Linked DNA regions of Homo sapiens: region 2 is linked to region 1. Evidence: fine-mapped expression QTL. A gene starts in region 1. The other region holds a variant in brackets. All regions are shown on one strand. Distances are between the middles of the regions.

Evidence for each region. PIP is the estimated chance that this variant, and not a neighbour inherited with it, causes the effect.
Region 2: its variant is the best candidate, but not a certain one, in a credible set for the expression of NPY2R in prefrontal cortex (ROSMAP, PIP 0.53).

What each region holds. Positions count from the first base shown.
Region 1 is chr4:155,206,437-155,211,818 of GRCh38, forward strand. NPY2R (neuropeptide Y receptor Y2) reads left to right here and starts at 2,200. Exons shown (of 2, transcript NM_000910.4): 1 at 2,200-2,633. NPY2R-AS1 (NPY2R antisense RNA 1) reads right to left here and starts at 1,736. Exons shown (of 2, transcript XR_001741894.2): 1 at 1,589-1,736; 2 at 1-1,379.
Region 2 is chr4:155,160,260-155,165,641 of GRCh38, forward strand. No RefSeq gene overlaps it. Among named protein-coding and RNA genes, the nearest start is that of NPY2R-AS1, 45 kb to the right of the region's middle. The variant G/T (reference allele first, on the strand shown) is at 3,149.

The DNA of each region.
Region 1 (5,382 bases):
ACTGTGATGCACAAAAGTGTCATAAGCTAATTCCCACAGCTCTCCTTGATAATATGATACACTATGAAGTGACTTTCATTTCAGTTTATCAGTTTCTCATCCAATTCTGAACTTTATTAAAGGACATTAATCATAGAGACCATTTACTCTTTTGAGGTTGCTGACTAGATGTCTGTGGAACTATATGAATCTACTAAGACAAACACACGTCTATAAGAGAGTGAGGCAAATAGTTGGTTATGGCTGCTAATACGCTTCTGAAAGGCAATTTTAAAGAAGATAAAATGTGTTTTGTGCAATCAATGTCAGTGAAATCAGTTGAATTTTCCAAAGCAATTGCTCTAAAAGACAACACTCATCTGTTTTGCTGGATATTTGATTTGTTTTTGTGGTCGTTGTTTAAATCCATTTCTACTCTTTTAAAGTTATAACTTATTGGTATATGGTTCATTCTTCACCAATGCAGATATATTGAGAAGAATGGAACCTGTCACATATAACACATATTTGGGCAAAGAGTACTTTCTTAAGGAAAAAACAAACAAAACAAAACAAAACAAAAACAACTACTAAAAGACTTTAAGTGGAACTGTGTAGAACATGTTAAATATTTCCATTTCTGTTTACCTTTGTTTCTAGGTATTTGAAAAGCCCAGGCTGCTTTGTTTTATAAACAATTCCTATACTCCTGTGGGCATAATTCTATATTAACTGAAGATTAATTTCAGGTTACACTGTAAAAATGCCTTACAAATGCAATACTATTAGGGTGTGGAAAACCCTGAAGGAACTGAAAATCCAATCCATTTGAGGGAAGCCTTTAATTAACATCTTGGAGAATATGTATTACCTTTTTAAACAGATAAATATTTTTTTTCATTTTAGAGTAGCGGAATCTAATCTTAATCTAATCTTTTAGGAGTATATTTCAGAGAAATTCCAAGCACACCAGTATGACCATCCTTATTTCAGAAATGACAATGCATAGAGGAAAAGTAATGTGTGCAAAGCCTCCGAAGAGGATGGTTAAGTAAAGACTTAGGTTACCAGTATCAGGCTTTCGTTTTTGTATGTAGGTAGCTCTACTGCCTCCTCTTAAAACCAACAAAGGAAAGAGAGACTGGCTGCAAACTTTTAGAAGGAATGGCTTCGAATAGGGTTCCTGGGAGGAATCCCGAGGAAATAGACGCTGCTGCTCTGCTGATTGTCTCCACTATCCTGTTTTGCTCCTACCCACTAATCCAGCCTGGGAGGCTCTGGGCATTAGCGGAAGGCTTCACCACAAGGAGACAGGAGCGAGTATTCCATAGGCATGCGCTCCTAGTGGCACGAGTGGCTTGGGTCAGGATCAAAGAGTGAAGGATTCGGAAGTCAGCTATCTGGAGAGAGAGAGAGAGAGATTGTGTTTTATTCGTGTCCCATAGCTTTCCTATCCTATCCCTATCCTAGCTTTTAACCTGAGCCAGAGCTCACTACACAGGTTCCTGGCTATCGAGTCTGAATCTGCACTACTCAACTTATAAACTGTCTGCAGACACCTGTTAGGGAAATTGCTGATCATGGGCAGCAGGATCTGAACTCGCTTTACCTTCTCGTTTGGAGCACAGGGACCGCCCAGCTAGAGGAGCACCAGCGCACTGCGCCCCAGCCCTGGGCGAGGGTGCGGAGGATTTGTTCTCGGTGCAATCCTGCTGGCGCTTTTCCGGGGTTCTGCGCGGATCCAGCTCCCCATCTCTGCTCCTACACACACAAAAGAAAACAACTCTCGATTGGAAGTTGTGGAATTTTCTCAGCCCCTACGAGGCGCGGGGATTCTCCAGCCCCGGCCCTCCTCCCGCCAGCCTGAGGTCTCCTTCGCTCGCCTGCCTTGCTAGGGACCGCAGTCCCTCAGCCGCAGCTGGGTCTGTCCGCCCCGCCTTTGCCCTCGCCTTTTCCCGGGGCGGATTTGGTGAAGTCGGCCTCAAGTCCAGGAGGTCTGTCTTCGCCGGGCCAGCTCTCGCGGAACTGGGGGGTAGAGAGCAAAGGGAGAGATTCGTGGAAGGGAAGGGAGGTAGGGGTGGCGCAAACGCCCAGAGTATCAAACTTGGGGGTGGCACAGTAGGTGACAGCAGCAGCTGCAGGTGGTGGCTGGGGACCCGCGAGGGGGCGCCCCTCTGGGTAGGGTCTGGCTGAGCGGGCTTGCAAGCCCGGGAGGCGGCTGAGAGACCCTGGACACTGTTCCTGCTCCCTCGCCACCAAAACTTCTCCTCCAGTCCCCTCCCCTGCAGGACCATCGCCCGCAGCCTCTGCACCTGTTTTCTTGTGTTTAAGGGTGGGGTTTGCCCCCCTCCCCACGCTCCCATCTCTGATCCTCCCACCTTCACCCGCCCACCCCGCGAGTGAGTGCGGTGCCCAGGCGCGCTTGGCCTGAGAGGTCGGCAGCAGACCCGGCAGCGCCAACCGCCCAGCCGCTCTGACTGCTCCGGCTGCCCGCCCGCGCGGCGCGGGCTGTCCTGGACCCTAGGAGGGGACGGAACCGGACTTGCCTTTGGGCACCTTCCAGGGCCCTCTCCAGGTCGGCTGGCTAATCATCGGACAGACGGACTGCACACATCTTGTTTCCGCGTCTCCGCAAAAACGCGAGGTCCAGGTCAGTAAGTGTAATTCCTAACTCTGATCACCTCCTGGGAACAAGAAAATCCCTAGAGGAGCGCTCGGTTCCTATGAAGAGGGACATGAGGAGGTCCTCATGAGTGTATGGACTTTTTCCTCCTCCTTTAGGCGGGAGGTGGCGATTTGGAGGATGTAATACCATCCCCATTTTCTACTTTCTCTAGATTTTCCCTTTTCTGTTGAAGATTATTTACTATTTCCTTGACCCTTCTTTGAGATAGGTCATTATCTTTCCAGAACAGTAAGTTGTTATTGTTCCTGCCTCTTTAAAAATCAAACACTTGTCTAAAGCAGAAGGTCCTATTGGATTCTCCAAAGCCGTTCAAGAGGAGACACATTCATTTAAGCGTTTGCTCATTTTCCATCAGAAAGGCTCACCCACTGGCAGGAGCTTTTGGTGGCAGGGAAAGAGGCAAAATTAAAAGCTTTGAGACTTTTTGCAATAGGTACACATCATTTAAAATTCAGTGACATGAAATGGAGATGCTGTTTCCAAAGAAAGGCTTCCCACACCCTTTGGTGAATATTTTCAACTTTCTACTGATTAGCCAAACAATCATGTCTTGTATGTAGCATTCTTGAAACTTCCCTTCTTCCCCCTCCCCTGCCCCCATTCCTAGAACTAATTAGTGTAGGCAAATGCAGGGCTTTTGATTTCTGAGACTGATTTCTGAGATATTTTTCCCTGGGAAAAATGTTCTGGAAGACATTGTGCTTGATAAGATGTGTAGGTTTACTAAGGCCAACCTGTGACAATATTGTTGCAAAAAGCCCCCACAGATTTAAACATCTCTCCTCAAAGCATGAACTGGTCTCTGACTCAAATAACTTGAGGTTATTTGAATCTCGGGTGGTGGGCTGCTGGGGGAAGTCCTGAAACTCTTTTCCTATTCTGCAAAGAAATGTTTCTATGACAAAGTTTCTAAGGATTCCCTTATTCAGGAAAATTGTACCAGTAAAAGTTCTCTTTAAATGTCTTAAAGTAATGTAAATATCTCATTTTGCCTTATTTCAAAGAAAGGTTATTCCCTTGTCTGCTTGCTGTTTCCTTTGTGTGCTTTTGATGGCAACTTCCTCTGTGTACCATTTTCCTTTCCCACTTTTCCAGAAGTGCTGTCATGAAATGATGCATTTTCTGCTCTGGGTAATGTTTTGACCTGGCTGAAGGGAGTAACCTGCTTAAGCACAGCTAACACTGTCTATATTCTAAGAGCTTGTAGATCAACAACCATTCCTACAGAGAAGTTGTAAATAAAAGGGCTTCAAAATTTATAAAACAAGACTGAGAAGAAAAAGCAAAGCAAATCAAAAAATCAAGTATACTCTTCCTCCTAGTAACCTTCAATCTCATGCTTCCTCTCAATTTAGTCAGGTATAACCTCCAAACTCCAGCCTCTTGGAGTCTCTTTAATTCTGTAAATGGCTAAATGGCTTGTCAGGATTGAGTAACTGTACTCTAAAACCAGTCTCTTTCTTAGTCTAGGGGATATGGTGTGGGCTATCAAACATACACTCCAAGATATGAATGATTTGTTTCAGATTTCTCTAATTACTAAGGAGTGGAGGCACATGTGAAAAGAGGCTGGGGCTCCTTGGAATGTTCTATGTGAAATTTATGCAGAGGGAGCAGGAATATATCAGTACGGCAAACACCTGAGTACATGGAAACTCTCATGTCTCTCTGTATAGTAAGGCTCCTGTGGAAGGGTGAGTGGTGAGAGACAGAGAGTGAGGGAAAGATGCGGAAAGAGAAAAAAAAGTGAGATAAATGGAGCGGGAGAAAGAGAGTTGGGGGAGCAGAAACCTTTGAAACAGAAAGTTTTCTTTATGGGTTATACTGACAATTTAAAATGTTATAATCAGGAATTAATTTAACAGGGTCTCAGGACAATTTTTTTTTTGTATAAGCAGTTATCTGATTAAGAATAAGAAAATAAGCATATGGATGTTATGTCATAGGGAAGAACCCTACATAGGCAGTTGTCTTCAGTAAAGGAAAGGATCAAAATTATACTTTCCATTTGGCTGACATTGATTATTCAGTATAATTGTGCTTTCCTTTAGCTTTATATTTGTTCTGACAAATTGCTGAGTACCTTTAATATGCTATATAGTGTGCTAGGGATTAAACAATGGAGGAAGAAGGTCTAGGTTCTGTCTTCAAAGAGATTGCTGTGGTGGGTAAACGAAGGAAAACAGTCACAACGTGGCATGTGGTACATGCGGCATTAGAAGTGAGCACAGGGGCTTGGGGTAACTGAGAGGCTTCCCAGTTTAAAACGGGGAGGGCAGAGAGGCATGAAAAAGGCTCAGGTGTTACTGGAATTGGAAGTAAGGCAGTATGACAGAAGTGGACAGTATATATTGGGCTGTCAGCAGAGATGAGGCCAGAGGGATATGCAGGGATGAGTTCAAGAAAAGCCTCGAATGTCAGGCTAAGGAGTTGGGATTTTCTTCTATAGGCCAGTGTTGTCAACCTGTGGGTGCAGATCCTTTGGTGGGAGAGCAAATTAATGAAAGCATACATGTATGTTATTATCAGATCATGCAAAACAGAATCTATTCAAGAATGTAAAAAAGGAGTAATTTAATTCAGATAGTTGATTAAACAAGTGATGGAAGCCAAACAATGGATGTTGAGACTACCTAGGGATTACCAAGAGCAGGAAGTCATTACTGCCTCCAGCTGGATGGATATGAGGAAGAGGTAGTGTGACCAAGGCCCCCGGA
Region 2 (5,382 bases), 46 kb before region 1:
ACTGCTGGATGCAGGAGAAGGTGACATTTTTACACTGTAAAAAGTTCTTCCCAAGGCTTCAGAACAGGACTGTGTATCATAATGAGATTCTTACCCCTCTAAAGGCCTACCTTTTTATATAGCAGAATAATGTTGTATGTAATGAAATTTCACAAGCAGTATCTTCTTCTGGTAACTTAACAGAACTTAACCTAAAAAAAAAAATCCCTTAGAATCCCTTAGTTAAGTAAGAAAAATATCTGTACAATTGCTAATACTGCTTGGTGGACCTGGAAAAATCCCTCTGGGAAAGTTGAGACTCATATACGCAAAATTTAAAAAACAGGCCACACAGTTACAACCTAACTCCCTAAGGTCATTTGATTTATTAAACTGACTGCCTTTAAGCTTGGGTTTATGGCTGAAAACTATTATACAAACTGGGATTGTCATATTAATATTAATTTTATTTTGTATTTTCCCTTTTAAAACTTCGTATCTATTACTTGTTAAATTTTTTGCAGAAGTACTACTAACAGAATAATATTGGCCCAGCACTTTGACATGATAACAAAAGACTGTGGAACAGACAAAATTGAACTCAATAATGGACTCCAAGTAGATTTTGCTTTAGAGACATTTCCTTCAAAACTCCCTAGCTGCTGAAATGTGGCTAAAAAAAGTTTTGAATACTGATTCCTAGTTGCTAATCATTCCCCCTAATGTGGGATGAAACCAGCAAGCAGGAAAGAGTCATCCAGGCACCAAGGATCATTAAAACCTAACTGCAGGATGATTGATCAGTGATGCTTTTGGAAAAAAAAACCTTGATCAAAAGGGGCAAATGTGAAAGCTGTCAGAATAAAAAGAAGTCACTAATATTGAAAGCAATAAAGAACCCTAACAAAGAGAGCCAGGGAAGTCTATGAAGGAGGGGTTCTCATGCTTGTGTGCCCGATAACAAAGCTATCACAAAAGACTCCACAAAAAACCATAACCTTGAACTAAGGTCATTGCAATCTTATACTAAAAAAACAAAATCCTTCTGCAAGGACATCTCTCCAGCAACTGCCTGTCCAACTTTGAATTGGCATCACCCTTGTTATTGATCTTTGTAGCCAAGGATAATTATCTCAAAACAGTTATGTGATCCTCCTCATTTTTTGTTTAAAAACTTTTGTCTTCCTTTACCTCCCAGAAAAAGCACATAGTTTAATATGGCATGGGTATTCCCATTGCAATGTTCTACTCCTGAATAAATATAGTTTTCTTTTAGAGAGGCTCTCTTTGTTATTTAGGTTGACATCACCAAGTTGGCAAGGGAGCAACAGCATAAGCCTTTGTGCTCAGGGTACAGCATGGCACAGACCTGAAGGGAACTTTTTGCAAGGAACAAAAATAATATGGCAGGATCTGCATTTAATAAAACCAAAGTCACAATGAACATGAGGTGGCTCAGCAGATACCAATACGTTCAGGTGCCAACCTAAGCAGGTACCTCCCTCCCTCGTTGTCCGCCTTGAGTCTGCATCATTCGAGTCTTCCTGGAATTTAAAAAGCAATCTTAGATAAATGTCAAGTGGGGACCCTTAAGCTTACATAGATTAAACATCTCCATTTGGAGAAGAGAGGCAAGTTTCGTCTAACGATAAAAACAATAAGGATGAATTTAGATGAATACCAAATTCATCTAAAATATCAAATTCACCCTTCAGATGAATATCAAATTTAAGAAAAGAATAAGGCTTGTTGAAATGGCAAATGTGTGGATAGTTGGCCCAGGACTCAGAAAGCAATAAATAACTGATCAATGGACCACATCCCTCAAGATGAAATGTAATGGGGACAATGTGGACATAATGTAAATATTTTAGTAGATGGCATGGGCTTAGCTGCAGAGTGTGTAAATAGCTAAAGTTTCAATGACCATTAAATGCATTAATAAAATTAAAATAATGAAGAAAGGGGGACAGTTCTAATTAAAGGCACTAGTCAAGATATTCTTGGAGTAGTGTGTGTGTGTGTGTGTGTGTGTATGTGTGCACGTGTGTGTGTCCTGGAAACGAGAATTGAGGGGACTGAAAAGAAAAGAACTGACTTATATGGCTGACTTCACATGATAACAGCTATTACATGAAAGAGTAATTAAATTTTTCTGTGGTCCTTGTGGGTAGAATTAAGGCCATTTGCAAAATATATACAAGGAGAGATTTTTTTTTAACCTAGAAAGAAAGAACTTTTTACACATAAAACTGTCTGAAGATAGAGTAAGTAGTAAGTTCCCTGTCACTGGAAAGGAGATTCTGGTTTTGCAGTGAGGATCTGGAGGGAGAATTCAAATATCAAATGGGTGATAGAGGGTCAAATAAATTTTTAATCCTTCCCAAGTCTACGATTTCATGGTATTATAACAGTTAGACTTTTGAACTATGCAGAAAATTGGAAAGGAGTTGAAAAACCGAGAGAATGATTGTTAGAAATCATTATAAGTTGCAGTGGCTGCTTCTGGAACACAAATAATGGAAAAGGTATAAAAGCTAAATGTTTTCATTTTTTTATAATCCAAAATGCATTATGAATATTTCTTGTGCCACTGCATTTAGTAAATAATGTAAAAATCTTGACATGTATATTTTGCATAAAATGAATAACCTGAGATGCAGAAACACCATGTCGATTTATGCAATCCAGTGGGCATTTTTGAGACAGTAAAGCCTCACTGAGAGGCCCCCAGGTACTGTCTGCCTCTGGACAATGTAATGAGGACATGGAAAATCTATGGCTTTCTGTTGCCTTCACATTTCCATCAACTGGGATGATTTCAGGAACATGTAACAGAAAATCCAACTAAACAAGGTTATGGTATAATACTACATTGTGTGGTAAGAAGCCCAGAATAAGGCAGTTATAGGAGTGATGAATTCAATGGCTCGGTGTTGTCAGGTATTCAGGTTGAGTTCTCTGTGGTTCTTGTGGACTTTCCCTTCATAGCAGCAACCTGGCTGAACAACATAAACCACCATGTAAGCCGCTCGTCACACATGATAATGTCTAAGGGGAAAAAAGAGTGTTTAACAAAACATCACTGATAAAGGAGATGAGATGACCCTGAGTAACTTAGGTTAATTTACATTTTACCTTCTGTGTGGGGCCAGAAGTAGGCAAATGG[G/T]TTTTCAATGTCTGAACGAAAGCAGGATTTTTTAGCAGGGAAGAGATGCAATGGAACAGGTATGGATTTTATCTAGGTAACTAACAGTGTCTGCCACAGCTTCTTGTGCCAGGGTCCAATGCCTGTTTTGAAACAAAAATACTATAGTAATGTGTCACGTAACAAAGAACCTCAACCAAGCTAAAAGCAACAGAAATTCATGTCTTGCAGTTCAGGAAGGAAGGTATTGGCTAGGCGATGCTTCCTCTAAAATCTGTAGGAAACTCCTTCATTCCCTCTTCCTAGGCTCTGATGTTTGCCAGCAATCCTTGGCATTCCTCAGCTTGTAGATACATTGTTCCAATCTCTGCCTCCGTCGTCACATGGCTGTCTTCCTCCTGTGTGTCTGTGTCTTCTCTTCTTATAAGGACGCCAGTCATATTGAATTAGGACCTGCCCAAATGACCTCATTATAACTTGATGACACTACTAAGACCCTATTTCCAAACAGGGTCATATTCACTGCAGTGCCAGAGGTTAAAATTTACATGTATTTTTTGGGGAGAGGGCACAATTTAACCCATAATACTTACACAGTGACACTCTTCAAGGGATCCCAACCTTGCCTGTATGGAGTCTTCCTCTATAAACAAGGTCCAAGGTTTCTTCTTCTACACAGTATGGGTATGGAGACACCAGGGTATATTGATAAGAGCACCAAACAGTATGGTATGCTGGAAAGAGCATCAAAACAAGGTTTGAAGACTTGAACACTATTTGGATCGTCTTAGGAAAGGCAATTATTTTCTCTTAACCTGTTAGTTTCCTCGCTGTTACTCATCTAAGAACTTCCCAGGCAAAAGGTACTCTGACCTCAAGGCATTGCTTGCCTCATGCCAGAGCTGTGTGGCTCTTTATGGAGATGAACATATCTTGCCATTGCCTGATACCATTAAACATTCATTTATTTTACTCATTTCTAGTGCAATATTTCCAAAGCACTCTTATTACAAAGTCTTCCCACATGATGTGCTTATAGATGTGAATTTCCTTTCTCCAAAATTTTTATATTTCTCAATATAATTTGAACCATTGTCCTTTAAATGTTGTGAAAAAAATAAAGATTTCAGGTTTTTTTTCTTTCTAAATTCTTGGTTGTAAAATGTCATGTTATTTTCCTTTAGTACGTCAGGTTTACAAGGCAATGCGACCTTCCTGTTTTTATTCATATACAATGTCTTTATATTAGAAATTTGTAATCTCAAATGCTTAGGGTGTAATAAGGAATACATAACAATTGAGATTTTTTTAAAAAAATTACAAAATAATAGGAAAGTTTATGGGTGAATGAACTTATTACCAGTGGCATTTTTAATGAAAAACACTCTGACCTGCATTTCCAGGAGCAGAATGGTTCAGAAGAAAAGTGAATTTCTCAAATTCCACTGGCTTCTTTAACAAAGGTTCATGAGTTTGGGTGTGTGAATAAGCAAGCCCAATGCAGGTCTAGCTGAGTTGGCATGAGGTTAGGGAAAGGGGCTGTATTGACAGACAAATGAGATCACTCATTCTAATCCATTCCAGGATAGCCAGAAGGTTTCAAAGAGGCTCAATAATGAGAGTTGCCTCTTATTCTGGGTCAGGAGACACACTCGTGCCTTCGTGACTATTTTAATTAATGTTGTTGTCTGCCTGGTATGCTTTCTTCTTTTTATTCTAATGGAATATGCCTTCCTATCCACATGGTGGGTCTGTCACATAGGCTGGAACTGTCATATCATCCCATGACCCTGGTGTTCTGGATTTTTTGTTGCAATATCATCCCCTTTAGCAGGAAATAGGCTGATAAAGCTGAGCAGTGTCTGAGGAGGCATAGCACACATGCAACTACTTCAGATATGGCTAAGGAGGATAAGAGGTAAAGAACAAGCTCTCAGAGGGCTGGGCTAAGAGCCACAGAAAACAGTGGATGAGGACATCAACCCAGGGAGAAGACAGTGTTTATTCAAGGTATCTTCATTTCTGCTGTAACAGATATATTCCTAAAATGTACTGCATTAGACAAATCATGCAGTAAGAAAGACAGGGTATATGGGAGAAATGGGGCTAGGGGCCCAACACTCAAAAACTGTCAGTGACATATATTTAAAAAGTAGGAGCCTGTTCAGAGCTTGCAGTAAGCCAAGATCGCACCACTGCACTCCAGCCCGGGCGAAGGAGTGAGACTCCATCTAAACAAAACAAAAAAAGAAAAA